Homo sapiens: one gene and its partners. The protein of the gene in region 3 purifies or fractionates together with the protein of the main gene of each other region. This does not show direct contact. Each region holds a gene or a part of one and is shown on either strand. Other genes may lie near its edges.

Evidence for each region.
Region 1: the proteins of NGFR (region 3) and BACE1 purify together in Homo sapiens (affinity purification with western blotting; one study listed by BioGRID). This does not show direct contact.
Region 2: the proteins of NGFR (region 3) and NTRK1 purify together in Homo sapiens (affinity purification with western blotting; 2 studies listed by BioGRID). This does not show direct contact.
Region 4: the proteins of NGFR (region 3) and NTRK2 purify together in Homo sapiens (affinity purification with western blotting; one study listed by BioGRID). This does not show direct contact.
Region 5: the proteins of NGFR (region 3) and NTF3 purify together in Homo sapiens (affinity purification with western blotting, with the first as the bait; one study listed by BioGRID). This does not show direct contact.
Region 6: the proteins of NGFR (region 3) and SORT1 purify together in Homo sapiens (affinity purification with western blotting, with the first as the bait; 2 studies listed by BioGRID). This does not show direct contact.
Region 7: the proteins of NGFR (region 3) and SORCS3 purify together in Homo sapiens (affinity purification with western blotting; one study listed by BioGRID). This does not show direct contact.

Annotation. Positions count from the first base shown.
Region 1 is NC_000011.10:117,285,257-117,288,756, forward strand, and holds the end of BACE1 (beta-secretase 1 isoform A preproprotein), read right to left. Parts: 3' UTR 442-3,500; downstream 1-441. UniProt on the Homo sapiens protein: Responsible for the proteolytic processing of the amyloid precursor protein (APP).
Region 2 is NC_000001.11:156,863,865-156,867,364, reverse strand, and holds part of NTRK1 (high affinity nerve growth factor receptor isoform 2 precursor), read right to left. Parts: intron 3,012-3,500; coding exon 2,937-3,011; intron 2,638-2,936; coding exon 2,566-2,637; intron 456-2,565; coding exon 387-455; intron 1-386. UniProt on the Homo sapiens protein: Receptor tyrosine kinase involved in the development and the maturation of the central and peripheral nervous systems through regulation of proliferation, differentiation and survival of sympathetic and nervous neurons.
Region 3 is NC_000017.11:49,494,070-49,498,092, reverse strand, and holds the start of NGFR (tumor necrosis factor receptor superfamily member 16 precursor), read right to left. Parts: upstream 2,801-4,023; 5' UTR 2,676-2,800; coding exon 2,610-2,675; intron 1-2,609. UniProt on the Homo sapiens protein: Low affinity receptor which can bind to NGF, BDNF, NTF3, and NTF4. Forms a heterodimeric receptor with SORCS2 that binds the precursor forms of NGF, BDNF and NTF3 with high affinity, and has much lower affinity for mature NGF and BDNF.
Region 4 is NC_000009.12:84,676,229-84,679,728, reverse strand, and holds part of NTRK2 (BDNF/NT-3 growth factors receptor isoform a precursor), read right to left. Parts: intron 1-3,500. UniProt on the Homo sapiens protein: Receptor tyrosine kinase involved in the development and the maturation of the central and the peripheral nervous systems through regulation of neuron survival, proliferation, migration, differentiation, and synapse formation and plasticity.
Region 5 is NC_000012.12:5,491,108-5,493,453, forward strand, and holds part of NTF3 (neurotrophin-3 isoform 1 preproprotein), read left to right. Parts: intron 1-2,346. UniProt on the Homo sapiens protein: Seems to promote the survival of visceral and proprioceptive sensory neurons.
Region 6 is NC_000001.11:109,314,419-109,317,918, forward strand, and holds part of SORT1 (sortilin isoform 1 preproprotein), read right to left. Parts: coding exon 3,435-3,500; intron 2,541-3,434; coding exon 2,432-2,540; intron 361-2,431; coding exon 254-360; intron 1-253.
Region 7 is NC_000010.11:105,214,790-105,218,289, reverse strand, and holds part of SORCS3 (VPS10 domain-containing receptor SorCS3 precursor), read right to left. Parts: intron 1,355-3,500; coding exon 1,168-1,354; intron 1-1,167. UniProt on the Homo sapiens protein: Plays an important role in modulating synaptic transmission and plasticity in the hippocampus, probably by affecting the trafficking and localization ofAMPA-type glutamate receptors in the postsynaptic density.

The DNA of each region.
Region 1 (3,500 bases), on a different chromosome or scaffold from region 3:
TGTACATTTTTATTATATAGGTAATGTGTGTATAGAAAGTCTGTATTCCAATGTTCGTAAATGAAACTATGTATATTATGCAGAAACAGTCTGTTCCCCCTCATCTTGCAATTCCTTTGGGGGATGCAGATTGTAGGGAAGATGATGTTTAGTTTGGCCTTGAAATTATGATATCCCTGCCCAGGGCTGTTTTCAAATACAATATAAAAACCACCTAGGAACCTGCTGTTGCTCTAAGGCCATTCTGCTTTGGTTTGGCTCAGCCTCTAGTCCATTTCCTTAAGGCTCATGTATGCAGATTTAAAGCCTGGTGCTCACCCACTGTCCAACCAGATGCCTTGCTTACCGAAAGCCTCCAGAAGCCTCAGTATTGTTTTAGCCACTCTACTCCAAATGGATAAAATGAGACTCTGATTGAGGAAAAAAAAGTAACCCTAGTAGTTTGACTTCTTATTGAATATTTTACTGTGTTAACGCTCATTATTTATACAGACATTAGGTTTACAGAATATTCTGTTTTACATCACCAAAATTCACAGTCCGAGAATAACAACATAACCAGGTCCCAATTCCTCCATGTACCCCACAAGCTTCTGTCCACCCTATTTTCTGGACAGAAATTAGCACAACCCACAGGTTTTTCCTGGGCCAAGTCTTCCTTTGCTGCCACTGTCTTGGCTTCTAATCAAGCTCTGACAGGCCAACATTGTGAAGTCCTCACCCTTTCCCATTCACTTCTGGTCTCCTAGTCTAGCTAATCCCCCTCCCCCAGAAGGTTAAGGCAGTTGGTTCACAACCAAGTTGTTTGGTGACCTTGGGTGAGCTCCAGACAGGCACTGGGGTGAGGAGATGTCTGTGCAAAATTACTTGTAGAATGATCTTGGGATGCTGGATTTTAATTTTTGAAGCAAGAAAGTTAGGGGGGGACATATTTCCTGTCCTGGGAAAAATGGAGACCAAAGTGATATTAAGAAAGTAGTTTGGATTTCAAATTTATAAATCACTTGCTCTGTGGGTAGCTATCAGGAACTAGATCATTTTCCACCTCTGCTTATTGTACTTCTTAATTTTAGGTTTTATACCTGGGAAAGCTGTGACTCTATTAGAGCTTTGAATCTTTTCCTATCCTTTTATCTTTACTCCTACAGGGAATGGCCTCAGCTCCCTTCTCTTTTAGAATTAAACAAGTAAAAACTAAGAGTTAACTTTTTAAAAAAACTGACTCCAGGGAAAGGACATTATTATATTACCAATAGCTGATTTTTTTTTCCATTCTGGGACCTAAAATGCTTACAGGTACTAGCAGTACATGTCGGATAGCAAAGACTTTTCCTTTCAGACCCAACTAAATGATCTCCTTTCTGCCTTTGATACTCTTTTCCTTCTTTGTCTTTCATCCTTGCCTATCACCTCACAGATGGATTCTTCCTCATTTCTCTTGCCTCACTTGCCCAGGTTTATTGACTAGCGTCAGTTTAAGGAGCTGGACTTCCTGGGACCTCCTTGGCATCTTGTAGGGTGATTGGAGTGGCCTGAGTACTCAGCTCTTCAGAGGTCAGGTGACCCACTTTCTTTGGTTAATGAAATGTTACTGTCTCCAGGTTAGTAGCTGTCATGAACAGGAAAGGTGGCAAAATGGAAGACCAGTTCTATTGTTCTTTTTGTTTAGGGGATTCGTTTTTTATCTTGTAATCTTAAGATTTCCTCTCCCCTCAACTTTACAGCAGCCTTAGGCCACCTGCCGTATTTTTCAGTATCCCCTGCAAATTTAGAAATTGAAAATGAGTGTAAAGCATATTGTTTCTTTTCCAAAATCCTTTGAAGCCAAAGGAGTAAAGAAAGAAAAAAGGAAGGGGTGAGGAGGGGGCTTAACTGCTTCCCAGTAAAGACCCTGGAAAGCCCACTCTTGCAGGAGGATAAGTGTTTTGGAGAGTTGTGCATGGGAGCGAGCGCCTCAGTGTTACTCTTTCTTGTTCAGGATCAGTCAGAAAGCAACACAAGTGTTGGCGACCCCTGTTCTCCCTTCTCCCTCTGTCCACTGGCCTGCAATGATAAAAGACATGCAGACCAATGGGAAAGGCCCCAAATGCAGTGAGTGGAGAATGGGACAGTCATTTTTCAGGAGCAGAATTTAAAAATACAGATGTATAATACATATTTTTACAAGCAAGAAGCTGTTGTTAAGACTTTTTTTTACACTTAGAGTTTATAATTTTGGGGCAGGAAGGAAGTAACTGTAAAAAGAAAAACAAGTGCAAGTTTTCTTTAAAAAAATAATAGGCTGATGGGACTTGCTATCGAAGGGGTTGAGTTTTATGCCCTGGAAAGGGCTGGGAAAAAGCCAGTTTTTCCCAACATGGGTAGAAATTATAAAGCAAAATGTGGCATTTTCACTTCATGGTAGCAGTTCTGAAAGTTTATTTACACAGTAAGTTCCGAGCTAGAAGTGGACAGTCTCCAGTCTTCCTGTCAGACTCTGTAGTTATGGGGTGTTCCCAGTCAGCCAAAGCAGCACCAAGTGCAGTGGGAATGAAGAGAACCCAGATAAAAAACTGACTCAGTATTCTTGTTTTATTGGTTTATGGCTTGTGGGCAGCTGGCTGAGGCCAGGAACACCAGAGGCCCTCCTTGTATTTCCCTCTCCCTTATCAGGTAATTCCACACTTAGCAGGTCCCATACCTGGAAGCAGCGGGTTGACCAGGTAGGAGTAGGATGCAGTGGGTATACTAGGAAAACCCAGCTCTTCCCACTAACACTGGTACCGTAGTTTACTATGCTAGAACTGATAGGGAGGTAATGAACTTGGTCCCCACTACCTAGCCCAAGAACCAGCCTGGGTACCCACGTACCATTAGGAGCGGGGAGGGGAAGAACAGGATAGGGGAAAAAGATGACCTTCATCAAGGAGCTCTTGTGGTGGAGGACATAAGGAAGCCCTGAGGCTGCCATCCTTTCTCCAGGCAGCCTTGATACTGAAGGCAGTAATGTTAGAGCCATAAAGCACTGTATTTCTCATACTCTTGGTATAATGCTAGTGCCACTGTGTGATGCTTTAGTCAAATAAATGGAGGGGCCATTAGAGAGGGTAGGAAGGCAATGAAACCACTCTGAATTATGTAAAGATCTTGCTACTTCTTATAGCCTAATAGGAAGAAATCCAGGCAGGGGTTATAGGGCATCAGCTGTTGAATGAATGTTCAACATTATGCTTTTAAGGATTAGATAGAAGAGGTCTCCTACCTATTCCTTTTAGCACCTTGGCTGCAAAGCTCCAGAGGAAGATTTGGGGGAAAGAGTGAGCCTATGACCAGGAAGACAGAGCCCAGCCCTGCTATAGTCCAGTTGCTCTCCCACAGGGCACCTGGAGCTTAGGGGGTTAGGATATTTCAGTGCTGCCTATCATATGTAGAATAAAGGGTGGTTCAGATAGAGACAATGAAATTAATATGGCAGAAATTCATGTGTTAAGTGGAACTTCTTAGTGGGCACTTCATTTAAG
Region 2 (3,500 bases), on a different chromosome or scaffold from region 3:
GGAAGGGCACAGCCCCCCAGAGTGACCCAGAGGCTTTAAGTGCCCACCAGGTACACATGGACCCCTGCTGCCCCACTCACCCCTGTGCAGGGTGCCCTGGGAATGTGGGCAGATGTGCCTTGGACACACAGTGGGCCTGTAATCTGCTCAGCCAGGCCCAGCACACACACAGTCATCCAGGCCAGCTCCTCAGGGCAGTAGCCCCCTTAACGGGTAGTCCTGCAGCCCCTGCTTTGATGGGGGTTTCACTGGCATGCACATAGTCCCCAAAGAGACCCCCCAGCAGTGTCACACAGACACAGTGACCCAATGTCATCCAACAGACCCAAGTGCACACAGGCACACACACACTTGGTGCTCTTGCCCCTGGAAGCGCCCCCACTCACAGTTCCTGTAAGGAGAGGCCCTGCACAGTTTTCCAGGAGAGAGACTCCAGAGCGTTGAAGGAGAGATTCCTGCGGGCGTGGAGACACAGCAAGACAGACCCCTTGAGTGACCCGACCTCACTCTGACCAGAATGAGGGAGGGGAGGAGCCAAGAAAGAAGTTGACATCTGGCTCCCCCGCCCCGGCCTAGGCAACCAGAACCAGCCCTGGAAGGCAGTGTGTGTAGATGGTGGGGTGGGGGGTGGGGGGACTTTCTGAGTCCCACTCCTTTCCCTGGGACAACAAGGGTTAACCCCACTTAACCCCCTCTCCAGACCCCAGGGAGGGGGATCTGAGGGAACAGCCGCTCCTCCCTCCCCCACTGCTTTGGCCCCAGCTGGCAAAGTGCTGAGGCCACAGCTGGGGGAAGGGGTCCATCTGTGCTCCCCTCCCTACAGAGCCCAGGACGGGGCCAGAGGAAGAGGGGGAGGGTTGAGGCTGCCACTCCCTTGCCCCTACCTGACCACAAGGAACTCCACGCACTTCCTCAGCTCCCCTCCTCCTCCTCCTTCCGGGCCCTCCTCAGGGACTAAAAGGTCAGGCAGGAAAGGACCCACACCCCCACACCCCCAGCCCCCTCGTTGTATGGATGGAAAAAGTGAGCCCAGCAGGGGCCCGGCTCCAGGCCACACAGGAAAATGATGTAGGAGCCCCAGTGCCCTGTGCCCTGTGCCAGGCTGCCGCTGCTGGGACCCTCTGCCTCTGAGGGGCCTATCCTGACCCCTCTTCTTTCCTAGCCAACCTAGAATTTGTGGTGGCTGGGTGGGAGAAGTACCACCACATAGGGACCAAAGACACAACCCACTCTAGAGCCAGCTAGAGCAGGTGTAAGTTCTATCCTGCCACTTACAGCTGTGTGACCTCAGTCCAGAAACTCAACCTCTCTGATTCTCAGAATTCTCATCTATGAAATGGGGACAAGAACACTCTCTCTCTCACCAGGTTGATTGTGAAGATTCATTGACATAAGTATCGTGAAGTGTCATTGAGCACGTTTTTAACTGAAGCCCCGGTGCATAGACGGTGATATGACATCACTTTATTTTGCTTTGTTAAATTGCTGGACACAGCAGAGTTTAGAGGACCCTGCATAACTCCATGAGTGTCAGCCCCACCATCCTTCCCATCTCTCTGCCTGCTCATATTGGGGGACAGGGGAGCTGAACTCCTGCCCTCAGAAGGCCAGGGAGGGGCTGCCAGGGACTCTGATAGTCTCTCCTGCCCATCCCATGACCCTCTCTGTCCTACAGCAGGGGTCCCCAATTCCCAGGCCACAGATGGGTAATAGTGCCACTATTCTCCAGCCTGAGCAACAGAGGGAGACCCTGACTCTTAAAAAATAAATTAAAGAAAAAGAGAAGCACAGCAAGGAAGAGGGGCTATAAACAGGGCAAATATGTGGTCTCTTAGGAACCGGGCCACACAGCAGGAGGTGAGCAGCGGTGAGTGAGCATTACCGCCTGAGCTCCGCCTCCTGTCATATCAATGGCAGCATTAGATTCTGTGAACTACTGCGCACGTGAGGGATCTAGGTTGTGTGCTCCTTTTGAGAATCTAACTAATGCCTCATAATCTGAGGTGGAACAGTTTCGTCCTGAAATCATCCTCTCCTCCCGCACCATCCGTGGTAAAATTGTCTTCCATGAAACCAGTCTCTGGTGCCAAAAAAGTTGGGGTCCACTGCTCTACAGGAGGGATAGTTATGACTCCCAGGAATGAGGAGGGTGACAAGTGGCAGACCTAACACCCCAGCTCCCAGGATGTCCTAGGGGCCAAGTCAATGAGTCCCTGGGAAATGGAGTCCCAGCCAGAACCCAGGAGTCCTGCTCCTGCCGCTTGCTCCCTTTGCACTGGTGTGTATCTGAGCCCTGGGAAGAAAGATAGGGCAGGCACCTATGAGAAGTGTCCTTGCAGCATGGACCATGGAAGTGAGATGGCAAGGAGGACCTCTAGCTGTCAGGGGCGAGAGCATGCCATCCCTGAGGGAGATGGGAGGAAGCCCCAGGAGAATGGTGAGGTGACTTCCCTGACCAGGCTTGGGCCCTCCTCGCAATCATTCCCCGGGGACAGCCAAGCCCATTAGCAGCCCAAGTCTGGGTGTCCTCCCCAACTCCCACTGCCCAGCACTGGCCACACTCACAGGCGACTGAGCCGAGGAGTGAAATGGAAGGCATCTGGCGCCACGAAACGGAGACCACTCTTCACGATGGTGCTGGGGAGGGGTGCAGGAGGATCAGTCCCCAGGTCTCAGCTACTCTGGGCCCCTGGCCCTCCCTGCCCATCCCAGCCTCCCAGTCCCCTGTGCTGAACCCCTACCCCTCCTCAGGCCCCTCATTGTTTCCTCAACTACTCTAGACCCCTCAAAGCCCTGAGCTTCCTGACTTCTCCCAGTCCCTCAGTGCTCAGCCTCTCAGGTCCTCCCAGGCCCTCGGATGCTTGAGCCCTCCCTGACCTTCTGGTCTCCCCCAGGCCCATGCTGAGCTCCACACCCACAGTCCCCGTTTCCCTCACAGGTTTCTCAGCTCCCCCAGGCCCCTCAGATCACGGAGCTCCAGATGCTGCAGATGCTGCTGGTTCTCGATGTAGCTGTGGGGAGAGCGGATGGGAGTCACAGGGCTCAGGCCCACACTTGAGTTCCCATGCCCACCCACTTACTCCCTCACAATACACATGCACATGCCACATGCACACGCATATGCACCTGTTCAGACCTGCATACACACTTACACAGGCGTGCACACACAAATGCATACATGTGCACAGAGACGCACCTCAAGTCACACATGCACATGTGTGTGCATGAACACACAAGCGCACATACATATGGATCCCCACACCCTCACACATATGCACATTCTCACATACCTCTTGCACACATGCACACACCTAGGTATGCACATGCGCACACACAGAGGCATAAGCATCTGCACAGATGACGCCATGCACCTGCACATGTGCCTGCAGGAACACGCTCACCCATGGACACACAGAAACAAAGCTCACGTCCATCTCTCACGTGCACACACACAAGTCCATTCTCAGATTGGTGTTCTCCTTTTATATCAGGCATCCCTG
Region 3 (4,023 bases):
GAAAGTCTAGAAGGTTCTGTTTCCTCAACTGCGAAGTGGGAATAACTAAATTCACCTTGCTAGGACCTTATAAGGATTAAATAATTCAAGAGAAACTACCAGGGAAGTGCAAGGCACTTAGTAGGAACTCAGCACATGCGATTATTCCCGCCTCCCCACGCGGTCCCCCAGGGAAGAAGCGAGGCGCTTGAGCCAGACTGGGCTGGAACAGTGCGGTAGGGGCCCGTCCCCCGCGGAGCTGCCTCCCCATCCACCATCCACCCAGCTCAGCCCGGCCGCTCACGCACGCCCATTTGCTGCCCTCGTTCCATCCCTATTAGGCGCATTAGCCAGCCCGGCGGCTCTGGTTACAGACGTCTGAATGACAAAGTGCCTCCATTACCGGCGCGGCCCGCCAGCCGACCCGCCGGGACGCGCTCTGGTTTCAGCCCTCTCTCTCTCACCGCGGCCCAGGAAGAAACTCGGACCGCGCACAGCCATCCCAGACCGAGCAGCCGCGCGCCGAGGCGGAGGCGGGAGCCGCAGGGGCTGCAGACGGCAGGTTCCTGTCGGGGTACACCTTCCCAAGCGCCCAGGTCCTCCACGCCCAGCTCCCCTCCTTCCTTGGGTCTTCGCGCGGGGACCCTCGCTCTTGCCCAGACCCGGAGCCCAAGTCGTTGCCCCTCTGGGATCCGGTCCCTCCTCCCCGCTCTCCTGGTCTACGCTCGCCCACCCGCGTCTGAGCAGCGTCTCTAACCAGCGGCGTTAGTCAGCAGACGTGCCCGCGGTCGCTCCCAAATCCCCGGACGCAGCCACAGGTCCTGACAGCTCCAGGGAACTGGGGCTGAGCTTTCGGGCTGGGGCCCGCACCCGGACAGAATCTCTGCCCACCTCACCCGCAGGCTCTACCGCCGACGGACTCTGGGGACAGTGTCAACCCCCCCCGCCCTGCTGGGAAACGCAGCCGTGACCCCGAGCTGGGACAGCGGCTGCCCCCTGAAAAGGTGGGGGAGTACCGAGCTGGGAATCAGGTCGGGGAGTCTAGCCACGACTCTGGCCCAACTTGCTGTGAGATCTTGGCCAAGTCGTTTAAACTCTCAGAGCCTCAGTCTCCGTATCTGTAAAGCCGGAATTTGGGGCGCAGTGCTCTGATGAAAGATGCTGGCGGGGAGAGTGAAGACGCCTCCTCCGTTGCCAGACCTTCCAGGGCATTCGGTTCATGGCCATAAAGCAGGCCACATCTGACAATCTCGTCGGACCACCCGGAGGACCCGCCGACCTTTGCCGAGTCGGTGGCCCGGGATACCGCGCTACAGAATCCGAGGCGTCCGGGCGCCCCCGTCTCGTTAGGTGCCCAGCGGCTTGCACCGAGAGCCAGGAGAGGCTCAGACCGGATCCCGACCCTTCGAGGCGCGGGAGCCCACGGAGCGCGGTGGGCGCGGCGCTCGGGTCGCGCAGCTAGGTGGGGAGCGGCGCGCAGCCCCAGACTCGCAGGCAGGCAGCGGCGGACTGCACTTGCCTCGCCCCGCAGCGCCCCCTGCCTGCCGCCTCCCGCCTGCGTAGCCAGAGCTGCGCGCGGCCAGGAAGGGTCCCCGCCTAGTGCGCCCCGGCGCTCTGCACCCCGAGACGTAGCCACCGCCAGCCCGGGTAGGGGCACACCCGCTCCGTCCCTCGCGATCCGCTGCGCTGCTTCAAGCCGTGAGAACACGCGCGTCGGAGGAGCCCGCCGGCCGTGGGGGAACCCCGGGAGCGGGTTCGCCCCGGCGAAGTGGGCACTCCCCTCCCAGCCTTAGATCCGCAGCCCCAATTCCGGGACTGGGAGAGGCCGCGAGCAGGAGCGCGGGGACAGGCGCTGGAAATGTCCAAGCCTCTGCTCTCTCTTCTCGTCTCACTGTCCCTCAGCGGGCAGGCGGGACCCCGACCACTTCAGGGTCCGCGCCCCGCTCTGTCTCCTTTCCTTCTGCTTCCATCTCTCTGCCGCCCTCGCCGTCGCCCCTCTTCTGCCCTCCCTAACCCACTTCTCAACCTCTCTCCCGCTCCCCAACCTCTCCCTCCGACGCCCCTCCCCCCCATTGTCTGGCCGGTCCCCATTGTCCTTGCCGGGTCCCCTCTGCCTCCAGTCCCTCCGACCTCCTCCATTGTTCCATCCCGTCGTCCCGGGCTCCCCGCCCCAGCCCAGCTCGCCCCTCTCATCTCTAGTCCCCGTCCAGTTCCCCCTCCTTCTCTCGCCTTGGTTCTGTCCCACGACTCTCCAGAGACCGAGATGCTGAGGGGAAAGTCCCTTCGGGATCCCGGCATTCGAGTGTCCTCTTCCGAAGAACCTGGGCATCGGAGAGCCCCATGCCCCCTCTTGAAAGACCCCTCCCAGCTCCCCCACCGCCCCCTGCGGTACCTGAGGACCGGCATCCGTGCTCCGGTCTTGCCCTCATCTCCACCCTGGAGAGTCGCCTCTGCGCTCCGGGAACCCTAGACCCTCCTTCGTGGTCCCGGCATCAGAGGTCCTTTCCCACCACCCACCCTCAGTATCTGGGACCCCAATGCTCTGTTCTGTTTCCTTGGTGGCGGCGCCCGGCTCTTCTCGGAGTTCTGATCCCGGGAAAGGGAGCGGGCCCCCTCCGGCTAACACTCACCCCCAGAAGCAGCAACAGCAGCAGGCGCGGCCCGTCCATGGCGCGGCCGGTGGCACCTGCCCCCATCGCCCGCCTCCCGCGGCAGCGCTCGACTTCCAGCTCGGTCCGCTTTGCGGACTGATGGGGCTGCGCTGCGCTGCGCTCCAGCGCCCCCCCTGCCCGCCGGAGCTGGCCGCGGCTCGGCTCGCTCTGGCTGCGGGCGGGAGAGGCTGGGTGAAGCCAGTGCTGCGGCCCCGCCTCCGCCCCGCCCAGCCCGCCCACCCCCGGAACCGCGCCCGCCCGCCCTGCCGCCTCGGGGTGGGAAGCAGAGGCAAAGGGAGGGCGTGCGGTTCCCCGCACCCCGCTGCGCTTCTCCCTGCCTTGTCCCTTAGAGCCTCTCACCCATCCCGCCCTGGTACCCAGTTCCCGGCCCGCGCTACTGCGCGTCCGTCCCGGATGCTGTGGGCCCGGGGACCAGGGCGTCCCCACTGCGGTTCCTGTTCCTCTCCGGCTGCGGCCCGCCACAGGGTTCACTCTCTTACCCATCTTCCTCCGCCTCTGGCTTCACCTTCTCCCTGGAGCCTTGCTCCCTAACTGCCCCCTATCAGTAAGAATGCCCGCTTGCCCTCCCTGCCCTTCATCTCAGTCCATCACCCCACCTCCACCCCATCCCCACCCCTCCCCTTCCCAGTGCAGGAGATCCCTGGGCAGAGGCCTAGGGGGAGGGGAGGGGCGCAGGCGCCCTTACCTCGGCCATCGACATTCAAGGTGGAGTCCATTCCGACATCATTTGATTCTCAAATGAGGGGTTTGAAGGGGTCACAGGTGTGCACACAGTGCACAGGAATACACACTCTCAAGCTCACTTGTATGTGTGATCGTGCACTTACGTGTGCCCACACCGTTCTCATGCACTCCTGCCGACCTGACTGTCCCACACATGCACCTCTCCAGGCATGCACACGGGCACATATGTGATCCGGACATTCAAACGCGCATATGTACACATTCACACATGCATGTATACAGTCGTGTCTGCATAAGCCCTCACATGTATACAGTCACACAAACACACACATTCATGAGTGCACACACACACTGACACCCATCAACAAACAAACAGATGCATCTTCAACAATATAGACTTCACCAGACTGTGAGTGTCTCCATGGGCTTATGAGCTCTGCAGGCAGGGATTATGGTTTCTTCTCTGAATTCCTGGTATACAGTAGGGTTCAAGAAAGTTTTGTAGAAGGGAATAAATAGAAAAGTGGTGAAATGGACTCATATCTGTGTACCCATCCATGTGCTAGGACCAAATTCATCTTGCCCTAGAAACCTTGCCAAGTCCAAATAATATGCCTCCCAACCCCAAAAGCATGCCACCCACCCCCATGCTTACCCCTTTCCTGTTCCCTCCATTTCTTCGTTCCCA
Region 4 (3,500 bases), on a different chromosome or scaffold from region 3:
GGCAATGGTGAATTCTTGAACAGAAAAGGAAACACTAGTGCTCATGGCTGACTGATTCAGAACCACAGAGTCTTTCAAGGAGTAGCATGCATGAGTGTCACAGCCTCCAGGTTCAAGATGAAATCAGTCAGGCTGGTGAGGTCAAGTGGCTCAACCAAAATCCCAGACCCTGATACTGTCAGAGAGTGGGTATCCAAAATCCTAGATCCCTAACCAGCGCTCCTTTCAGTTATACCACGTTCCTATACTTTGTCGCCTTTCCCACTGTGTTAACCTTACCAAGCCAGGTTCAGTTGAAACAATGATGGTCTGCCCACAGGTCGTCCACCAGAAAAAAGTACACAAGTCAAGATTTCTTTACAATCCATTAAAGGGGGTTTACAGCCAAATGATTGTTTGTATATATATGTCTGTGATTTGGGAACAGAGGAGAAGGGGATAAGAAACACCACCAGAAACAGAAAGAGGCTGAAGAGTTGCAAAGAGAAAGGCCAAACCCATGTACCTTAGTCCATGTGGGCTGCTAAAATAAAATATCTTAGACTGGGTAATTTATAACAACAGAAATGTATTGCTCACAGTTTTAGAGGCTGAGAAGTCTAAGATCAAGGTTCTGGGAGGTTTCATATCTGGTGAGGGCCCATTCCTCATAAATGGCACCTTCTATGTGTGTCCTCACATGGCAGGAAGGACAAACAAGCTCTCTGGAGTCTCTTTTATAAGGGCACCAATCCCATTTTGCCTTTATGTCCTAATCAACTCCCACCTCTCAACACCACTACCCTGGTGACTGAGTTTCAACACATGAATTTTGGCAGAATACAAACATTCAAGCCATAGCACCAGACGCACACAAGAAATAACCAAGGAGCAATATCATCTATAACATTCTTTGAGTTTGGGTGGTAGCAGCAGGGTTTTGAAGTAAAATTGGGAGTAAACTAAAAAGAGTGTTCTGGTTTGGGGTTTTGTTTTGTTCTTTGGAGAAAGACACTTGTTTTGTTTTGTTTTGTTTCACCATAGTTGTGTGTTTTTTTGTCACACCTTACCAGGGAATCTAGGGGCTATGATGTCAAGCTCTCTTGCCCAGCACCCTCCACCCCTACACATGCATCACACAGAGGAATAAGCCAAGCCCAGAAAAGAGAGGTCACTTGCCACACAGTGAGCAAGAGTCAGACAATTCAGGCATAGGCCCCTCTGCCACCTCACAGCAAGGGACTCTGGGGTACATGAAGTAGAAACAACTCTTGTTACAAAGATTAGCGTTGAGAAGATCCTTTCTTTTTAAATTGCACTATATTGCAGAGGTTGAAACCAAAATTCCGATACCTTTCAATTTTGTTTACATTGTTCGTTTATGTTGAGAAGATATCAAAGAATCAGAAGATAGACACAGTGGGTCTCTGAGTGACCAGGTCGGCTAACAGGGTCAATGCACTAATGCTCAAGTACTTCTCTCAAAGAAGACAGCCCAACCAGATCCTGGCCAAGGGACATCCAGAATGATAAAAACAAAATTAAAATAGTGGTTTAGGGAAGCACATTCTCAATTATTCAGAAAATTTTACAACTCAAGATAATTAAGTTGAACAAATTACACATGGCAGAGTTTTATACACAGATTTATGTATTGATGAAAACACGGTACACACATACAACATTATGGTGTGTGTCTATGTGTGTGTGTGTAGACAATTCTTGGGATATGAAGATTACAGGAAAGGATGGGATGCTAAGTAGCAATTTGTCCTTATTTGACATAAAAAAAGGAACTCTAAATGGTGTGTGATTATTAACAGTTTTATTTTGTACAAGAAGATGCCATATTACCAAAGGCAACCAAATCATTTATCTCTTCACAATATATATCAGACTGCTCAGGAGCTGAACAGGAGAAGAGGATAGGGGTGGGGAAGACAGAGGATGAAGCACCAGCCCACCTCCTTCCCACTGCATGAAGTTTAATCTGTGAACATGAATTCAAATCTCTAGACCTCTCCTAGAATTGCCTTGGCTCTCGAGGTCAAATTTGGGCACCAAGGTTGGAGTAGACAGAGCCCTAAATGAGACATTAGATAGGATCCTACCCCTAAATTATGCTCTGCTTTACCAAGGGGCCCAGGCAAACTAATAAACCTCACAGCCCCTCAGAGGCTGCCAAAACCTCCCCACCTTCTTCAGAGTGAGGCTGTAAACCTAAATAAGCAGATGTCTGTAAAGGGCCCTTCACGTCCCATGGGAGCAAATCTTCATGCAACCAAAAATATGTCTCAGAAGGGTGCTTTTCCTGGAAAGGTCTCAGAGCAGAACACGAACAACACATAAAATGGTAGCTGGATGAATTTTGGATGGGAGCCAATAATCCTGAAGTTTGCTCACTGGCTCAGCCACTGAGACTAGTCATCAATCTTGAGGCATTGAGAAGTCAGGGGGAAGAAAGAAGTCGGGGAATAATAAGTACTCTCTGGCCACAGGTCTTTCAGGGCAGCTAACACAGACCTCATCGAAAGGGCTGCGGGTTTCTCCACTTACATAAGCACCCCCGACTGTGGCAAAGACTCCAGGGGCAACAGGTTTCATTTCACTCTGTCTGCTCTGCCCCTCTTCTAATGCCAATCTGCAAAGATGGCCCAGCAGGCCCAAGGTTAGCATACCTCATTGCTGCCAACTCATGAAGGCTTTTCTCTGAAGCTCAAATTTTTTGTGTATGAATTGCCTAAAGAAGAGGAACACTTCAAATTTAACACACACACACACACACACACTCACACACAGTAAGCTAAACAGAAAATATATTTCTTCCTATATGAAGATAAGATGATTGCTTTCAGATCAGTAGCTCATGCACTTTTCAATTACTTGGTCTCTCACAGAGATGAGTTTGCACAGACTTAGCCATGTTAAACTTGTCTCCCCATTTATGGTGGTTCTATTAGGTTGGTGCAAAAGTAATGGCAAAAACCACAGTTACTTTCGCACCAACCTAATAAAATGATGAGCCAGAATTAGGCGGTCTGTTTGAGAACACAGAACGGAGGGGAGGCACCCTAAAGCAAAGGCCCCCAGCATTCATTTGGATGCTAGGAGAAGGAGCTTCTAGTTCCCACAATGCTGTTAATGAGTCGGCCTTCGGCAACTTTCTTCACTGCCCTTGATTTTTGCAAAGAAGAGGCTGAAGCAGATCATTTCTAAAGCCCTTTCTCTTTCTGAGGTTCCGATTCTAAGTGACCCATCTGAACACTGACCCTGTGACCTTGGACTCATCAGACCAGTACTAACATGCCACTAGCCTTGTTAGCAGCTCACATTTAAAAAGACATGGTTTGAGGGAGTTCAGAGCAGACACTGAAAACATTTCCACATAACACTCTGACACCAAAGGTCTTCAGATTCACACACTGCCAGACCCCGAGCACCTTGTATCATGCCCTTCCTTCACAGCTGATGTATACACTTCCTTATCTCCGTGACCGAGGCTTCAGGGAACTTCAGAGCCT
Region 5 (2,346 bases), on a different chromosome or scaffold from region 3:
TCACTCTCTGCCATTGTTTAGCAGTCTGACCTTAGACAGCTCACTTCACCACAACTGCAGGCCTCCGTTCCCTTATATGTATAAATGAGGAGGTTGTCTAGGGTCCTTTCCAGCTGCAAACCTCTGTGTTTTGGGGAGTTCTGTTAGCAACATTCTTGGACTTGCTCTCTACGAGAAAAGCTAGAAGTCGATTATTAAAATGGAGTCCACAGGAAGCCTGCAGGGCTTTAAGACAGCCTTCTAAAGAGTTTAGAAACACTCACCAGCCTGCAGATGACTTACTCCCACTACTTATTACAAAGTATCATGGCAAGTAAGAAAGAAATGGTCAGCCACTGGGAGAGCAGGCTGAGGTTGCAAGGAAGTGGCAGGTGCTATCGTTGGGATCTTGGGGGAGCATTGTAGAAAGGTCAGCTTTGGAACCAGGCACTGAAAAACGGGTGAAATTTCAACAGGAGAGGCAGTGCACATGGGTTGTGATTTGAGCAGCAGTGAGTAGTGAATGGGGTTGGAGCAAGAGGCCTGTGAGCCCAGTCATCACATGGAAAAGGGAGGTGAGGGCCAGAGTGCAGAGAACCCCTCTCACTTTCCTGTGGGTCTCTCCTCTTCTTTTTTTTTTTTTTTTTTTTTGAATTGGAGTCTTGCTCTGTCGCCCAGGCTGGAGTGCAGTGGCGTGATGTTGGCTCACTGTAAGCTCCGCCTCCCGGGTTCACACCATTCTCCTGCCTCAGCCTCCCGAGTAGCTGGGACTACAGGCTGCCACCGTGCCCTGCTAATTTTTGTATTTTTTTTTAGACGGGGTTTCACCTTGTTAGCCAGGATGGTCTCGATCTCCTGACCTCGTGATCCACCCACCTCGGCCTCCCAAAGTGCTGGGATTACAGGCATAAGCCACCGTACCCGGCCTTTCTCCTCTTCTTTAAACTGCATTTAGGTTGTCCTCATCTATAAGATGAAGGAATAAGATTAGATGGCCTCTTTATATGGCTTATCTACTTCTAATAAACTTTGGTTCCATATTCCAGCCACCACCCATAAAGACTCTTACTTTTTCCTCCTCAATCCATCAGCATCAGCCAGCATTCTCCCTCTCAGTTCATCCTGGTCATTACCTCACTAATCTGTACCTTGACTCTTATTCTACCTGGGACCTCCCCTCACTAACCATACTTGATTTATTTCCTTAAGAGCGGATATCCTGTGTATTCTTAGCTTACAGTGGCTGAGCTTTTGGGAGGTTTAACAAATTGTTTTTCAATAGACTCTCAGTCCTAAATGATTTTATTGCAGCTGTATTATTCTTTTTGAGGGGAGTAGAGAATGTAATCCTAGTTGTATGCCATATTTTTTGTATTGTTCAAGTTGCATTTTGTTGGGCCTGTAATATTGAAGAAAATGTCACTTGTATGCAGAATAGGAGGGAGATTCCTTATGCTGTAGAGGAACCATTTTCCTAGGATAGTACAATTCCTTAGAGTCATCTCTAAGGGTGAGCAGCAAAGCTAGAATCCCTCTCTTGGCTTTGACCTTGAAGGAGTCAGTTTTCCCAAAGACTAGTTCCCATGGAAAGAAGATGGTCTCCTTATCACAGCAGCAAGAGGAGGCAGTATGAGCAGAGTGCCTCACTGTTGTTGACCTCTAGGGACAAGTGAGCCGGCAGTATTTCAGACAAGCTGGGAAAGAGGCTGTCTGTGAGTCCTGGGAGCGAGTGAGCACTGGCAGGCTCAGACATAGGTGCTGGTTAGCAGGACTGCTTTTCTGTTTCTTGTGTCGGCTTTGTTTATTTCCTCTCTATTTTCCCCCTGGACTTAGTAAAGTCTTTCCGAAAATACCAAAGGTGAACCAGGGGAAGAGTTTTTATTTTCCATGTTTGGACAGAACTTTAAAGAGGAAATGATGTACCCCCCTGGGAGCCAGTGAGGTGGCAGCGATGGTGATTAAGGAGTGAATATCTCAAGGAGGTGGACGAATTCGGGGATCACTAGCTCAGCTGCCCCTCTCCACCTGGAGCATCTCCTTCCAGTGCTACCCTCAGAACATCTGGGCTTTGCTCTAGTGAGGGAGAGACTAGCAATGAAGGTGTCTTGAGATCAGCACTGTAATTCCACCAGGACGCCACCGGAGTCCGGTGTTAAGCTTCTACTATGGCAACAGAATGAGAGCGTGGATGGGTTGAAATGCCATTTCAACAAGGAAATAGTAGAATTAGAAGAAGCATAAGCACTAAAAGGAACATTTTGTAGCAGAAATGTTAAAAATCTAAAGGAGGCAAGTGAATCAACAATGACTCTTCTATTCTGGGCAAGTCCAGCCCATTTATGTAAGGTGGTTATTCTGCATCTCTGT
Region 6 (3,500 bases), on a different chromosome or scaffold from region 3:
CACAGCAGGGGTGCACTTCTTACAGGACTGTGGACTTTCTCAGTTTTATACACTCAGGAACGCATCACAGACACAGAAAGCACAGTCCATGGTTGACATATGAAAAATGTACGACATGAGAAGATTTGGGCCTGATTTTTCAGGAACAGTACTGCAAGTACCTAGTTTTTGCCAAGAGTAGACTCAGCCATATGCCCTAGATCAGCCTTCTGGCTTGAACTCAGTACCTTGGATTGACTTCTGTGTTCCTTACCTTCCCCCACAGACATATTTCTTCACAATGAGCACTCCTGCTACGACTGTGACCAGCATCAATCCCACGATGGCCAGGATAATTGGAACAGAATTTGACTTGGAATTCTTGAGAAATTAAAACACAAACACAAAAGTTTTAGGCATGCATATCCTAGGACTGAGGTCAAGGCAGCCACTCATTCCCCTCATCTCTTTGTGAATGATCTGCAGTCCTGATGCGCTTAATGATGGCTCTTTTCCAACCCCCCAAGATGAACCATCTCAGTGTTACCAGGAGAATATTATAGCTGGCAGAGAGTCATCTTAGCTCCAACTGCCTTGAACCTTCAAATTCTGTGGTTTAAATGTCAAAGTTACACTGGAAGCCTGGGCAACTGCCTAGATCAAGTATGATTGCTTCACACTACCACTGTTCACAAGTCTTGGGGCTTAAGGGTGGAGTAGGAAAGGGAGACTACTGTAACAGTAGGCTGAATGACTCTAGAACAGGGCCATTATCTGGGAAGAAGCTGTGTCAGAAGAACCAGGCAGGCCATTATATGACACCAAGATTTATTTGTTTACTTAATTTTTTATATATTATTATAAATAAGCCTTATCATATCACTGTTTGCATGTGACCTACCTGCTTCTGGGTGGGAAATAGGGAGTGTGTGTTTTCAATGTATCCCAGAGGAGGCAGAGCTGGATTCTAGGACAAGCTGTGTCCCTGTGGGTGGGAGTCCTGTGCAATCACACACACGAACACTCTGAGGAGAGTCACCAGGAGCCCAGGACAAGGGTGCACAGAAGGAGGAACTCGCCCCCTTACCAATACACACACTCACACACTCCTCTCCCATCATCTCCTTAATCCCACCCCTTGTCAGTCCCTCATCCCTTAGAACAGCAGAGAGGAGGGACTGCAGGTGATCCAGCTTGACCTCTCCTATTACGAATTGGGAAACGGGCCTGCTGTTGAGCATCTGAAGTCATGCTGCTGGTCTAGTGTTTCATTATCAAGAGGTTTCCTCTTTACACATCTCCAGTTCCACAGGTAGTTCAGTGCTACAGATTTGGATGCAGCCTCATAACCTTTTTTTTTTTTTTTTTTTTTTAAATTGAGACAGGATCTCACTCTGTCACCCAGGCTGGAGTGCAGTGATATGATCATGGCTCACTGCAGCCTTGACCTCCCAGGCTCAGGTGATTCTCTCCCTTCAGCCTCCTGAGTAGCTGGGACTACAGGCACACACCACCACATCCGGCTAATTTTTGTATTTTTTTTGTAAAGATGGAGTTTCTCCATGTTGCCCAGGCTGCTCTCCAATTCATAGCCTCAACTGATCTCCCCACCTCAGCCTCCCAAAGTGCTGGGACTATACAGGAGTAAGCCACCATGCCCGACAGGTAACTTGCTTCATTTAAATCAAAACCAGCCCATTACCATAGCTCAATTTTTCACTTTGAACATACTTAACATGACTTGGTCAGAGATCCACCCTACCTATTGCCCAGTGCTCTTCTCTTCCACACATGCACAATTCCAGGTCATGGCCCTTCACAGACAACCTTTTTTTTTTGGTACGGAGTCTTGCTCTGTTGCCCAGGTTGGAGTGTAGCAGCACGATCTCGGCTCACTGCAACCTCCACCTCCCAGGTTCACATGATTCTCCTACCTCAGCCTCCCGAGTAACTGGGACTACAGGCGTAAACCACCACACCCAGCTAATTTTTGTAATTTTAATTTTTGTATTTTTAGCAGAGACAGGGTTTCACCATGTTGGACAGCCTGGTCTTGAACTCCTGACCTCAGTGATCTGCCTGCCTTGGACTTCCAAAGTGCTGGGATTACAGGTGTGAGCCACTGTACCCAGCCCACAGACAACCTTTTTGTTTTCCTAAATGACTCTCAGCCTCAGAAATTTCCACAACTGTATGATTTTAAGAATTTTACAACTTTACAGAATATCATCCCCCAACCCTCAATAAGAAAAGAGCTTTCAGTAGGGTGAGCTTATCACTGGGTTACATGACCCATCCTTCATGCTAACAGCTTCCTGTATAAGGGAAGCCTGAGAGAAGTAGTTTGACCACTTTTTATCAGTAACAAAACTCTTGATGCTTTAACTTTGATTTTTCTTAGCAGAACACAAAATCCCATTTGTACCTGAAAACTAGACCTATTTTAACATACCTGTTTTTCCGGACTCAAAAAGTTGCTTGTGCATTTCTTTTTCAAGTCTTTTACTTCTCGAACTGGATTTACCCCACCCTGGCATTTGTCCCCTGGAATTTTCCGGTACCTACCAGGCAAAGAAGATTTGGTAACAGAAGATAAGGATGTATTCCTGGGTACCTGCCTATTTCTTGGAAACAAGATTTGAAAAGCTGCCGAAAAGCTTCCCATCCTTACGTCATGTTTCAGGCCTGGGGGGAATGTCCACAGGGATGTTTTGGGGGATATTTTGTGTAGTTTCAGGCCTTAAGCAAACTAAGCATCTCTGTCCCCTGCTGTCAGAAACATGCCTGTTCTTTCTACCTAAGAGACTGTGCCAAAGAAATCTGACCCCAAAAAAGCTCATTAACAAGTGGTACAAAATGGGAGAGGGGAAGTTATCAGGGGAGCGAGGTAATGAGGCCCGTCTAGAGCAGCACTGTCCAATATGGTGGCTACTTAAAATTGATTAAAACGAAAATTTCAGTTCCTCGGTTACACTAGTGTCCACAGCTATGTGTGGCTAGTGACTATCATATTGGGCACAGCAAATTACAGAACACTTCCATCACCAAAGAAAGTCCTATCAGACAGAGCTCTCCCTGGCTGTGCCTAAACTGTGCCAGACGAGCGATGGACGTTCATGGCGGATGGGACGCTTCTGTCATTCTGCCTGTGGGTCCCTCGCCTCTCCTCCCTTCCTGGGGGTGGTTGGGCGGGAGGCAGGGGTGCAGGATCTGGCCGAGCTTGTTCTCCTGCTCTGCCTCGTGGTGTTGGTGGGGTTGAGTCCTCTGACACCAAGCACTCATGGCTCACCTCCTGTAGTTGACCCTTGAAGGAGGCCTTCATATCCTGCCCCTCCCCAACCCCGCCAAAAATAGTGCTCTAAAGTAGGGCTTGGATCTCAGTGTGGAGAGAAGCAGCTTTCACTCTGAACAAGAACACCTCATCCATCGTGACAAGGGAGAAAAGGCCACCTCACCCATTTGTTGTTAGGTGTTCTTCTCTTCCGTACAGACAAAACTCCAGGTCGTGGCCCTTCAGTTCT
Region 7 (3,500 bases), on a different chromosome or scaffold from region 3:
ATTTTAAAATTGGAGTTCAGGAGATTGAGAAATGAAATCATTTATCTCATGGCCATGTAGCCTGGCATTTTTAGGGACATGACTGAGCTACATAATCCAGGTCTCCTCTCACACACATCCCTTACCACTTTTGGTCCCTTTACCGGCATTGTGACTGGAGAGCCAGGAGACTAGCTAGCTTACTGTTTGCCAGGGACCTCTTAAGGTGTAGGTTGTTTATACAATAGAGTTGATGCCATCACTGAGTTGTTAATAGGAGGGTGCTCCTTGTTTTCACTTAGACTCTTTCAGAACTTATGATTTTCACTATATGTAGCATATTACCTGGAAACTCTTGTGGGGTATGTAAGTAAGAACCATGGAAGTCCTTAGACCCACGAATATCACTGATACACATGTGGGAAACCAATCCCAGCCCCAAGACAACATTTCCTCGACCCGACATCCTAAAATCACAATATTAAAGTTTCAGTTTACATGCATCAAATTCTAGAATAGAAAATACACAAAATGCATCCAGCACAAATGAAATATTTTGGAACACCAACTGTTCTTTTGGTTTGTGCCAAGCAACAGCCAATAGCAATGAAATAGATTCTAGCACAACAAAATATTTTTGGAGAGTTCTTAGAATTGTCAAAACAGAATGAACTTGCAGTAACCTTGTATGTAAAAATTAATTTTGTGTGTGTGTTTAGTTCTAAATTAAAAATATCTAAACATGTTTCTTTAATCCTTCTCTGGCTCTTACAACACAAATAACAGTTGACTTTGATTTGTGCAGTCTTCATTCATAATAGATTGAGAATGAGCCTGAGACTATCAACCAGAAGGCTTGTTTCTATCTTTTTCATTTTGAGGATTCTCCAAAAGGAAGAGAGGAGACTTTTACCTGAATGTGTGTGCACGCACACATTTATATCAGAGCAGAGTGGTGCTGAAAAGGACGGCCCAGGTGGTAATATGTTATCCGAACTTCAAAATAATCAATCTATTTCAGTACCATAATACTCAGAAACACAGATGAGTACATATCTCCACCATTTGGTTTGGGTAATTGTAGTAGTCACACTGAACCTGGGCTCAGCTCTGAATTTTAGGAAGTCTGAACAGAGCAAGTTGCCAACTGGGAACAAAGGGAAAACGGGGATGGTGCCTCCTACTTACAAACCACATGCAGGAAGAGGACAGCTGTGTCTGAGCCAAGGTTGTTCTCTGCATAGGCTGTCACCTGGAAGATCCCCGCACTCTTATACACGTGCTTGATGCCGTCCTCGATGGGGCTGAAGTTTGCGTAGGACACAGCAATCCCATCCCCAAAGTCAAGCTGGATGTTTGTCCTTTGTAGATCACCCTGCAAGATGGCATAGCAGACGGGTCAATTTACTTGGTCCAGCCAGACTCCTATCTGATGCTTCCTCCTGTTGCTTCAGCATCAACCTCTGATGACCCATAGTCTTTCCCAAAGGGCTGAAACACCTGCAACACAATGATCACACTCCTATCTGATCCGCAGGGTACTACGGGCAGGCACTATGGACCTATTGTCCTCATCGCCCAAGCTCGGGGCAAGCTGAGTTGGTATGACACTGACAATAGTGGGCAAGGTAGACCCTCTGTAAAGTTCTGAAGGGAAGCCAAGGGTTTCACTGACTCCCTCACATACATAGTTTAATTCTCCTTTTGTGTCATAATAATAATTGCAATCATAGTAGCAGCTAATAGTTACCGAGGTTTTTTTTATTAGTGCCAAGCAAGCAGTCTCCTCATAATTCCATATTATAGAAAGTATTTTTGTCCCCATTTGTCTGGGGACAAAAATAAGTAGTTAGACCAAAGTTTCATAGTGAGTACAGGAAGACCAGGTTCCAGACCCAGTCTGGTTTCAATAATAATGCCCTCAGTTGCCATGCTATAGTTGTAATTGCTCCTATTTTGAGTATTTGCTATGTTACCAGAATTATGCTACTCACTTAATACATATTATATAACACCATCTGCAAAACAACAGCAGGGATAGGATGGCGATTCCCATTCTACAGATGAATACTGCATACCACCCCAAATTATACCCTTGTTCTCTTATCCTTGGACTTCCCTAAATCTACTTAAGCCTCCTCTTCCCTGAAGCCTTTTCAGATTGTCCCAGTTCACAGATATCTCTGTCTCTTGGAAAGAGCTCTCTGTGTACTACCTGGTAACATGATGCCAATGATTCAGGTGAATGCATCTCACCACCCCAAGCCAACACTTAGCTTCTTAAGGGTCTATGCTGAACCTCATTCTTCTTGGTCCCCACCCCCCCACCCCACCATTATATTGGGCCAACACTTTGGATCAACACAATGCACTTGACCACAAAACAAAGATCCTATATGAAGAATAGCATTGCTCTGTTCATATATGAAGATGAGTGATAGAATAAAGAGAGAAATACATCATTTTGGAATTATGAGCCAATCCTTCTGCCCAGTGAATGTGCACTGATCACAGTTTCACTTTCCATTTCTTCCCCCATGGCAGCCCAGATGTGAATGAAATATTGATAGGTACTCTCTTGCCCCCCACACAATGTCAACTATCCTTGAGTTTATGAATATAAATTAAAGTGGAAATGAACTGGAGGCAATTCAAACGGATAAGATCGTGGCTCTTCACACCCATTCAAGAGAAGGTTTTTATAGCTGTGGTCCTGGAAACTCCCTAGTGGAAATGTGATAATGACCTCCTCTGAATCTTAAAGTCCTTTAATTCCAGCACCTGCTGTGAGTGAAGGCTGAGAAATCTGTCAACCCAGGATAAGGAACCTTCACCACCCTGTCCAGTGTGCTCCTGACTTTTAAAGGTTTCTGAAGTGCTCATACTTGTGAAAAAAAATGACTCCTGGCCTGTTTTGCCTTCTTTCCAAGATCTCAAGAGCACAGAGCAATTTGCATATAAATTTAGAGGGCTGTGTCAATCAAGCAAGCCTTCCTGCTCTACCACTCAGCAAAGAGTGCCTAAAATGCCCTAGTATAGGAAGCAATTCAACAGCTTATAAAAGAAGCAGACAACAGAGATATTCCCATACTGGAATCAATGTATGTAGTCTGATTTTACTGCCCAGATTTCAGAAGACACTAAAAAAGTGAAAGAATACAGCATCTAGCTGATAGAAAAGCAACTAATACAACATTCTTTATAAAGATAACTTTAAAGGATTTCAATAATCTTCCCCATCCTCATGCTCTTACTTTTAAGGCCTTGTGAAAGCTTTGTGGGCTTTTCTAATCAGTGGGATTAAGGGTCAGAATAAAGCAAAAGAGGCTCCTAAAAGCAACAGATAAAATTCACATTTCCTTCCTCTGGCCAAGTTTACAGTTTATGGTCTTATGGTAATAAATATTCCTCAGCAAAGCAGACTTTAATGGAGACCCTGAAGAATATATCCAGATCTGCATGCTCCAGAGGCAAGTGGGCTCCCACTGCGGACTGGGTCTTTATTGTGGGATAAAGGGAGG